Regions from separate parts of the Homo sapiens genome. Here region 2 is linked to region 1. Evidence: fine-mapped expression QTL. A gene starts in region 1. The other region holds a variant in brackets. All regions are shown on one strand. Distances are between the middles of the regions.

Region 1 (5,538 bases):
TTTGGAAAACTTATCAAATGATGATTCTGACCCATGTTCCTTTTTGGCTAGAGGGTTAGATTTCTTTCTTTACTCTGGACAACACGATCTAATCTATGATCTTTTTCCCTATATATCGATGAAATACCAGTTTTCCTTCCTCCCCCAAGAAGTTTGATAATTGGTCTTCTCTTCCAAGGCTTATCTGACAGGGATATATTTTACAAGTCACTTTACGTAGATTTATCTCTTTTAAAGCTTACATCGAGGAAGTAAGTGTTATACTTACACGGGAGGAAACTGAGGCTTGGAGAGATTAAGAAATATGATCAAAGTCACACAGCTAGTAGTTAACCACGCCAAGGTCTGAACCGAAGCCTGCGCTCCAAATCAGTTACATTCCCTCTCATTATATATTTTTATCACACACAGAATGCACACAAATTTTAAGAAGGGCTTATATTTTAATTTGGAATATATGTGAATGTATAATATCAGACTATGTTCACCTTTACTCTACTGCCCTACCTTCCTCAGTCTAAGAATTGGCTAGGTCCCAGCGCTTCGAGTAAGACAGAAAGCAAGTCTTCCACTTGTGGCTAAACAAATGACTTTCCCAAAATAAGACATTTAAGATACTGAAATCTAAGATTAAACTTTAATACCTGTAATTTCTGTCAATCATCCATTTCTCTTCTTACTGATAAACCATATCCACTTAGCATTCTTAAAAGTATTTCTTTCTAATATGGCCAAACAATACAGCAGTTTAGTATATATTTGCTAAAATTGCAAGCAGCTAGCCAGCTTAGGTTCAAATTCTGGCTCTGCCTCTACGTAACTATGTGACTCAGGACAAGTTTCTTCTCTTTACCTCAGTTTCCGGATCTGCAACAGGGAAGCAACAAACAAGACTGACAGTCAGCTGCTACATGCCAGCACAGTTTGACAGCAGCTCTCAATGGTCAGTCTGTGTTCTATACTGGTTGTTACATACTTTGAATATTGCTTCAATAACTACAGTTCCTACCTAACATGACTGTTATGAGAATTACGGAAATTAATAAATATGAAGCACTTTGAAATATGTCTGGCACATGTAAAGTGCTCAATAATTGTTAGCTGTTATTATTACTGGCCCCAATTAAATATCCATTATATATTAATCCCAAAGGGCAGCGTTATGTACCACATTTTTAAGTAATAAACACACAGTCATTATCTATAGCAAATTCATATAAAAATTCATTTATGCAGTTAAGTACATCCCCAAAATCATGATTTTGTTTGTACTTCACACTCACCAGCTTTTTGAAAGGAAATATATCATACATTATTCTACAATATTCCATGGAAGATTCTACTGAGCAAGTCCACAATGATTTAGATATGGGGGCCAAAGGAATGATTCCTTGGGTTCTATTCTTCACCAGCATATCAAACTCGACATGCTGCCTGCAAGATTCTGCCATATAAGGGCAGTGATCCACAACAAACACTGTTTTATGAGATTCAGAAAAAATCTTCATTTTGTTTTAACCTGTAAGGGGAAAAACATATTAGCCAAATATTTGTACATAACATCTTACATTTTTTCTAATTTTCTCAAGAAGATTGTCTTTCCCTCAAGAAGACTTGGTAGGGAACATGAATAATATGTTCAAAGAAATCTGTCCGACAAAGGACAGTTTAATGAGGTCATGACCAGAAAGCAAGGGTATCAATACACCATATTAGGCTGTCACTCTACCAGGCCCAGACAAAAATACCAGTGCATGCATTTTTGGTTTTGCTTTTAAAATGAACTTAAAATTGTCAGAGGGAAACATTTTGACATTTAATTGTATTTGATTCCCTTACATATACGAAACATAAGTGACAAAGACTCTTGAAATACAACTTTATGATCCTTGCTAATTGACATTAGTCACATATAAACCCCAAGCCAGCATTTTTGCACTTCCCTCCAAGAAAAACGTTTGAAGGGGGACTGGCGGGTAGGGGTGCGGAATTAACAGGAAAGAGGAGTGACAGCAAAAGAAAAGGCCAAAACAAAGATAAACATCTCCTAAGATAACCGCACATCAGGTCTTCGCCTTAGGATAAGGACCCCAACTTCACACTCTCCCCTTAGCTTTTGAAACATCACAGTAATTTACCAGGTAGAGCAGAAAAACTTAGTTGTTACCATCACACTGGTGTGTAGAAGGAAATTTAAAACTTTTAAAACTTTTTCTTATTAAAACAGAGCATACGGTACTCCCCTGCTTCGCTAACAAAATCTTATACTGAATAGACAATCCACATTCGAAAAGCACATGGCAAGCAAAGCCAAAGTGTTAAATCAAAACGAACTGATTTCTTACGATCCAGCTATTTTCACCTCTTGCTTTCAAGACGCATCTCCCCTTCATGCAAAACTCTCTTTGAGAAACCTTCTAGACCCACTTTGCTGGAGGGTGGGGGGTGGAAAATACAAGGTGAGTGGATAGGGAAGACCTCAGGATCGAGGTTCGCTTACTTTCGTGCCTGGTCCTGCAGTGAAAACGAACAGAGGCTATGGACCACAGCCTCTCTGGAAAAGGCTGCTGGCTGGGCGGGGAGAGTCAGCGCACAGTCGGGAGTGTCTGGTGCCACAGACAGGGGACTATGCTTTCCCCGATCATCTCCTAGCACACCGGTCCTTCCCAGGCTTCCTAAGAGCAGGAGCGCGCGTGCGCGTGCACACACACACACGCACTCGGGCTCGCGCGTGCGCACAGCGCTCTCCGATAGCCCGGCCAAGCCTCCCTTCCCCCTCGTAGGGCCAGGCGTCCCAGTCGCCGAACAGGAAGAGGGCGGGGCCAAGGAGGAAAAAAAAAGCCTCCACCCCTCGAGATTTTCCACCCGCTAATTTTCCCAGTCACCCATTGGGAAGCAGGATCTGGGCGACCTGAAAGCCTCCCCAACAGCGAAGTACCAACCACGGCCCCCTAAGCGTACGACCCACCCACCCGGTCTCCCCTTCTCTGTCTCTCCACCCAGGCCGGTTTCCCCTGGAAAAACTCGCGAGACTTTGCGAGAGGCCGAGCGAAAGCCTGGGAAGGGAGGAATAGGGAGGGACATAGAAGGGCCCCGCCCTGCCTTCTGGGGCAAAGCGGAGAGTGGTCGGTTCTGCCCCACAGTAACGCGAGGAAAGAAATCTCGCGAGGCTGGAGTTCTCCGGGAGCGCCGGTCGGAGGCGGTCGGCGGAGGTGTCTACCCCGCCGGTGATGGCGTTGAACGCCACTGGCTTCCCGGCCTTCCGTCCGCTGCCTCCGTCCGATTCTGCGTCTGCTTGCTGAGGAGGCGGATTAGGGGGGCGCGGAGTCTCTTCCCTTGAGTGCATAGGTCCCGGTTGGTAGAGGGTTTGAGTCCGCATCGCCACAGCTGAAGGCTGCGAGGGACTAAGAGCAGAGTAAGTGGACTAAATCCAGGGACGGGAGCAGGGGTGGGCGAGTCGGAGGCGTCCTTTGCCGGGGCAGTCCTTCGCCGGGGCCGGTGCCTTGCGCCTCTTGAACCACCGGCGCCCGGCCCTGTCCGCTTCCCGCCGCGGGCTCCCTGCTCCTGGGAGCCGGACTTCCTCTCCGCGCCCCCCGACTCCGAGCTCCTCTTAATGGAGATGCGGTGCGGAAAGTTCAATGAAAAGCCTTGGCTCTAACCCTGTGGACACACCTTCCGTATCTGCTTTCATCCTGCCTTACCCACCTGCGAGTTCACCACCGGACGGGGGACCCTTTCAGTCACCTGTTTGCAGCGTTTAATGAAGATAACTTGTTTCTTGAAACTGCTCTCCAAGGGGTATTACTCTTTTCTGGTTCTCTTCCTGCCTTTCTTCTCTATCCCATCTCTGATAATGGTTCCAGTATCTGTCCTGCTATCCGAACTAGAAAACCAGGAATCATCATTGGTTCTTCATTTCCACTTAACACTGCACTGTATTATTTTTTTTTTCGCCAGAATTAGTGCGGTTGCCCCCTCTGCCCCCCGCCCTCCACTGGTTTCCCTACTATAATCCTTCCATAGAGTTATTCTGAAATACATATTTATCTCTGTCCTTTCCTTAAACTTTTTAGTAACCGTATTGCTGACAGCATCAAATCCTAATTGTTAAGCACATCATCATTCAGGATCTTTTACAGTCTGCCCCAATCCATTTTACCTTTTAGTCCTGCTTTAATATCCTACCATACAAGACTATACTGGCTATTTCCCCAAACATGCCATGCGCTTTGACAGCTCTGTACTTTTGTACGTGCGGATGTCTAGGATGTTTACTGTTCCTCTATTTTACCACCTGTCAAAACCCAATTCATAAATCATTGTCTTCTCAGACTCCCCCAGGTGACATTGATACCGCTGTGCTCCCAACGCATTTGAAACTTTTCTTCTGCAGTATTTATTAGGTTGTATTATTTGTTTCTGTCTCTCCTGCCAATTTGAACCTGGGTCTGTCTGGAATCATGTCTTACTCATCTCTGAGAAAAAGTCCAGTACTTGGCACATAGCAAGCATTATTTATATATACATATGTATGTTTATTGAAATGGAATAGTTCTAAGGAATTCACCGTAAGAGTTCTTCATCCTTTAAAATCATAGAATTTTGGGCCAGAAGGAACTCTGTACATTAGCTTAAAGGTCCCGACCTATTTTGATTATGAGAAACCCTGTACTTCTAATACACATGCAATTGGACTTTTAGTAATTGTTGGTTGAAATTATGTATAATGACAGAAAACTACTATGCTTTTAAATGATTTTGTATTTTATTTTTACAGTATCTATTTATATTTGAGAAATGGAGCAGAAATGTTTTAGACTACAGACAGTGCTTGGAGTATGTGCATTCAGGCAACTCTTCTACTGACTCCTTAGCCTGTAGGTTAGAAATAACTGGTTTAGATTAGGTTAGTTCCTTCTTGAACTGTCACAACTCTTTGAACATATGTATGTGAAACTTATATTCAGCCACAATTCTAAGGGAACGTGTAATTTTAAAAAAATCCTCCAGTGTCATTACTTCCAAAATCTTTCTTCCAAGTTTAAAAATTAATTTTCTTCAGAAAGTGTCTTTATACAGTTCCAAACATGTATTCATTCCACTATTTTCAAGGACAGTGAAAATTTTCTTTGCTTTCACATACAGCGATGTGCCTTTATAAATGCTTATTTTTATATGTAATTTATATGCGTTCTTTCTTGCATTCATAAGATTATAAGTTTATATGAAAACCATAACTATACCTTTTGGTTTTTTTATTTCCATATGGGTCAGTTCATATTATGTACTAATTAATATTAGAGACACATACCTGAACATGAAAAAATTTAAACTAGATTGTTGACATTTAAAGACAGATCTGTGGTGTATCAGTAGCCACAATATTTCTGTGTAGATGTAGTGGTAGGAGTAGTGGATTTGCAGATAAGGGAAACAGAAGTGTCCAATCAGTAAACATTCATTGATCTTACAATTAATGTGATGCCTAATTAAAATGGTTGCTAGGCTTTTATTAATTACCTAGAAAATATTTGAAAT
Region 2 (5,000 bases), 25 kb before region 1:
AACATAAACAGATTCAAGTTTACATATTTAAAATTTCTTAAAACACAAACTTTATATGCTTATTTTCCAAAGGCTTCATTAATGAAAGTATAACACTACTTGTTTTTGTTTTTAACACTGACAAATATATTTACTGCCTGTATTCTCTAAGGCTGTGATACGGTTTGGCTGTGTCCCCACCCAAATTTCCATGCTGTTCTCGTGATAGTGAGTGAGTTCTCACTAGATCTGATAGTTTTATAAGGGGCTTCCTCTCCCTTTGCTCTGCCCTTCCCCTGGCTGCTGCCATGTGAAGAAGGACATGTTTGCTTCTCCTTCTGCCATGCCTGTAAGTTTCCTGAGGCCTCCCAGCCATGCTGGAACTGTGAGTCAATTAAACCTCTTTCCTTTAAAAATTACCCAGTCTTGGGTATTTTTATCTTTATTAGCAGCATAAGACTGGACTAATACAGGTTGTAAACAGAGAATGTCCTAAACAACACCCACAAATACTTAAGAACTCTTCCTCACATACACAACAATATTAAATAACACTGTACAAAACAGAGCTTCATTGGAAAATTTTTTTTTTTTCTGAAACAGAGTCTTGCTCTGTCGCCCAGGCTGAAGTGCAATGGTGCGATCTTGGCTCACTGCAACCTCCGCCTCCCAGGTGCAAGCGACTCTCTAGCCTCAGCCTCCCAAGTAGCTGGGATTACAGGTGTGTGTCACCATGCCCGCCTAATTTTGTATTTTTATTAGAGGTGGGGTTTCACCATGCTGGCCAGGCTGGTCTTGAATTCCTGACCTCAGGTGATCTGCTTGCCTCAGCCTCCCAAAGTGCTGGGATTACAGGGGTAAGCCACCACACCCGGCCTGGAAAACTTTTTATAAACCTAGTTACCACAGCTGTACCTTACCTTTTGATTTTTCCACTTGTGGAGTTTCATCCATTTCAACAAGGGGTTTTTTGTTTGGAGGTTCTGGGGAATCAGGCGAATCTTTTATAATCTCAGCTTCAGCCAATTCTTCTTTTCCACGCTCTAAGATTCCTTTTAATCTTTTAGAGGGACAAATAATGAAATGTAAAGTTCAAATTTTTAGAAGTCTAATGGTCTAATAATTAAACTAACTTTGCATATCAACCTTTATAAAAGATGGCTAATCTCATAAAATAAACCTAGGGACTAATCAAAAATCTCAATCTAAAACCAGGTAACAGAAATTAATGAATTAAATACAAGTTTCCCTTTTCCTTCATAATAATAATGCAATGATTCAGGAATTAGCTGTAAAATATAAAAAAAAAGAAGATACTTAAATTAAAATTTAAAAGGTAGGAAATGATGTGATCTTCAGAAGAAATTGCACAATTCTGATTTTTAAAGATAGGAACAAAATAACACTGAATTTCAAATTACAAATAAGATTAATAAGTTTATTCCCATTTATTCTCTAGTCTATGTATTGTGTAGATGTATTTATGTTCTGCAAATCAGAAACTTAACTCTAAACTTTTAGAGTTTCATCAGAGAACAAAAACACTTGCAAAATATACAAGAGTGTACTTGAAGCTCAGTGGGACCTAAATGATAGTACTTTTTCCCTCTTACAGTGAGCCAGTAGTGTTTCAGAAGCTCAGCAGCCCTAAGGAAAACATGAGCTTCTAAAGTCAAAGAGAATAAAAGTATTCTATTATTAATGGATACAATTACAGGATTTCCAGAATTAGCTTCAAAATATTCCTATGGGTGTAGTGGTAAAGGTAGTGGATGAAGATATATATGAAATGAGATCTGCCATGAATTGTTAATCATTGAAGGTAGATGATGAGTAACTATCTGTTCTTTTGCTACATATGTTTGAAATTTTCCATCATAAAAAGATGTGTTTTTCGTCAGTCGCAGTGGCTCATGCCTGTAATCCCAAGCACTTTGGGAGACCAAGATGGGCAGATCGCCTGAGGTCAGGAGATCGAGACCAGCCTGGGCAACATGGTGAAACTCCATCTCTACTACAAATACAAAAAATTGGCCAGGCATGGTGGCACATACCTATAATCCCAGCTACCTGAGAGGCTAAGGCATGAGAATCACTTGAACCCAGGAGGCAGAGGCTGCAGTGAGTCGAGATCATGCCACTGCATTCCAGCCTGGGTGATAGAGCGAGACTCTGTCTCAAAAAAATAAATAAAAATTAATTAATTTTAAAAAAAGTGACCTGGTGTTGGTCTGATTTCTGGCAAGTGGATAGAGGATATAGCCAGAGGATACGCTATTTCTATTTATAAGCCTTTATTACTTTTATGTTTTTCAGATTTAACGCTGACATCATAATATAAATCACAAACTAAAGGAAAAGAGTATACTATTAAGAAACATTTTCAGAATAGACTGTATGCCCTTCTTCTGTGCTTCCAAGGACATCCTATGCCTATTTTTATAATAGCACCTTCCACACTTTGCTGCAATCA[CT/C]TTTTTTTTTTTTTGAGACAAAGTCTTACTCTATTGCCCAGGCTGGAGTGCAGTGGAGGAATCTCGGCTCACAGCAACCTCTGCCTCCCAGGTTCACGTGATTCTCGTGCCTCAGCCCCTTGAGTAGCTGAGATTACAGGCATGCACCCCCATACCCAGCTGATTTTTGTATTTTTTTAAGTAGAGACAGGATTTTGCCATGTTGGCCAGGCTGGTCTCAAACTCCTGACCTCAAGTGATCCACCCGCCTCGGCCTCCCAAAGTGCTGGGATTACAGGTGTGAACCACTGCACCCAGCCTGCAATCACTAATTTGTCTGTCTCTAGCATCACACTGTATGTTCTTCAAGGGTAGGGATCTTGTGCCAAATGCCTGGCACATCATAAGCATTCAGTAAATATTTAGTGAACAGAGGAATAAAATTATGTCTGTGAAGTTCACAACACATAAAGCACATACTGATACCAAACATCATGCATTATGATTTTCAGAAGTTAATTAGGAAAAACTAACACTAACTTTGCCCCAACAGTAAAAATTCATACTTTTTTGTGCCCAAGAAAGATCCTCTAGATTTTAAGAATGATAAAATTACAGTAATGAAAATGAATAAACATGTATTAAATGAACTACTATTAAATCAGGTTTGAATGTATGAAAGTGTTCTATGCAGAATGTGATATAACAAAAGGCACCATGGTGCTATATCAATGCCAGGAAGTCACCTCTCTGAGTCTTGCCAAGACTTTTCCTGTTCATAATCTTTCACTGCTTTCTCTGACTTGTCCTCTTTGTCTTCCCTCTTTCTTCCTCGTTTCTTTCGTTCTTCCTCTTCTGGGGGTTTGCTCCTGCATGCCATCAGACATTCCAAGACTCTTTGATGTTTCTCTGAGTTGTTGATATGGGCTCTGACAAGGGTTTCTAATTCATTCCACATGATACGGTATTGTTCATCTCTGCAGCAAAGATTTGGAAATACTCTTTAAATAATATTGAAGTGTCACTTTCTAGTGGTAAAGTAAAAACAAATAATGAAATGTGGACTTCCTTCCTCTTACTTGGTACTTAATAGTGAAATTCTAGGCTACAATATATCCATTTCTATGATTTTGTATTATTTCATCTCAAATATATATATAAACATGTCCTCAAATAGAATTTACATATGGAATAAGTTATCTTGAGAAACAATATGTATCAAGTAAATGTGATCTATAAAGTAAGAAAGAAAAAAAAATGTACCTTTTAGGGCCCTTTCCTCTTGTACCAACTGTGGAAATAGGTAGAGGATCATTTTTTCTTTCCATATCAACTAAGTTGTATATTGTTTTTTGACAGTTTAACACATCTTCTTCTGTCAGAGATTCTTTCACAATAACACTGGCTAATGGAACTACCTGTTAGATTTTTTTTAAAGAAAAAAGAAAATCTGTCTTGAAAAATAAATATCAAAACATCTAGGCAGAACTTGATTTTCGAAAGGATTTTAAAGATTATCATGGTGAAGGAATCTATAACTATCACTTCAATTTTTAATTATTAATTCTTTAACTTTAGCAAGCTCATATATTTCATTCTTTGCTTAAGAAATGGTATAAATTACAAATTGTCTAATTGATTTCTATAAAGAATATATAACTAATCTATAAGAAAAGTTGAAGCTACTTAACACTTACCGCTTGCATGTTAAAAATGGTGGTTTGTGAAATGATCATAGGCCAGTAACGGGTATGTTTTTCTAACTGATCTTTTGCTCGTTCCAAAGGGACCTCAAGACTTCCATCGATTTTATATCTGGGGTCTAGAAAAGGAGTTAATCTGTTTTCCCTCATAAATTCACCAAAATCCTAATGATAACCAAATAAGATAAAATTAGAAACTATGTCTAATGTTTCAGTATGGATTACATGTACTAGTCTGTTTCCCTGATGTCTTCTGTCCTGTGATGTGCAACAAAACATTTTTTCTAACAGTATCCCTTAACTCCACTACTTTTTTATCCTTTCTGAACTTGAAACCTATCAGCCTTTATATGATGAAAATGAAGAAAGCCTCAAACATAAATGCATTCATGGTATGTTTTCCCCACCTTTTGTAAAAACCAAGGAACACTTTTTTTCCCCTTCTGTAATTTAACTTTTCTATCACACACAGATAAAAGAGTCAGTTAATCACATTAGAAGACCCATTTGCTTATTTAAAAACTACCTTGAGGTTGGGCACGGTGGCTCACACCTGTAATCCCAACACTTCAGGAGGCCAAGACAGGTGGATCACCTGAGGTCAGGAGTTCGAGACCAGCCTGGCCAACATGGTGAAACCCCATCTTTACTAAAATACAAAAATTAGCTGGGCATGGTGGCAGGCGCCTATAATCTTAGCTACTCGGGAAGCTGAGGCAGGAGAATCGCCTAAACCCAGGAGGCAGAGGTTGCAGTGAGCCAAGATTGCGCCACTGCACTCTAACCTGGGCAACAAGAGCGAAACTCTGTCTCAAAACAAACAAACAAACAAAAAAACTACCTTGACATAACATAAACATGTCAA

What was found. PIP is the estimated chance that this variant, and not a neighbour inherited with it, causes the effect. A credible set is the group of variants that fine-mapping cannot tell apart.
Region 2: its variant is the best candidate, but not a certain one, in a credible set for the expression of INTS13 in whole blood (INTERVAL, PIP 0.86).

Annotation. Positions count from the first base shown.
Region 1 is chr12:26,935,296-26,940,833 of GRCh38, forward strand. It overlaps INTS13 (integrator complex subunit 13), which reads right to left and starts at 2,686. Exons shown (of 17, transcript NM_018164.3): 1 at 2,501-2,686; 2 at 1,284-1,519. The coding sequence starts at 1,508. FGFR1OP2 (FGFR1 oncogene partner 2) reads left to right here and starts at 3,175. Exons shown (of 7, transcript NM_015633.3): 1 at 3,175-3,415. RefSeq lists enhancers at 2,991-3,500, 3,229-3,278, 3,501-4,009 and a silencer at 3,539-3,608.
Region 2 is chr12:26,910,279-26,915,278 of GRCh38, forward strand. It overlaps INTS13 (integrator complex subunit 13), which reads right to left. Exons shown (of 17, transcript NM_018164.3): 12 at 4,130-4,300; 13 at 3,696-3,850; 14 at 3,179-3,409; 15 at 900-1,039. Among named protein-coding and RNA genes, the nearest start is that of INTS13, 25 kb to the right of the region's middle. The variant CT/C (reference allele first, on the strand shown) is at 2,453.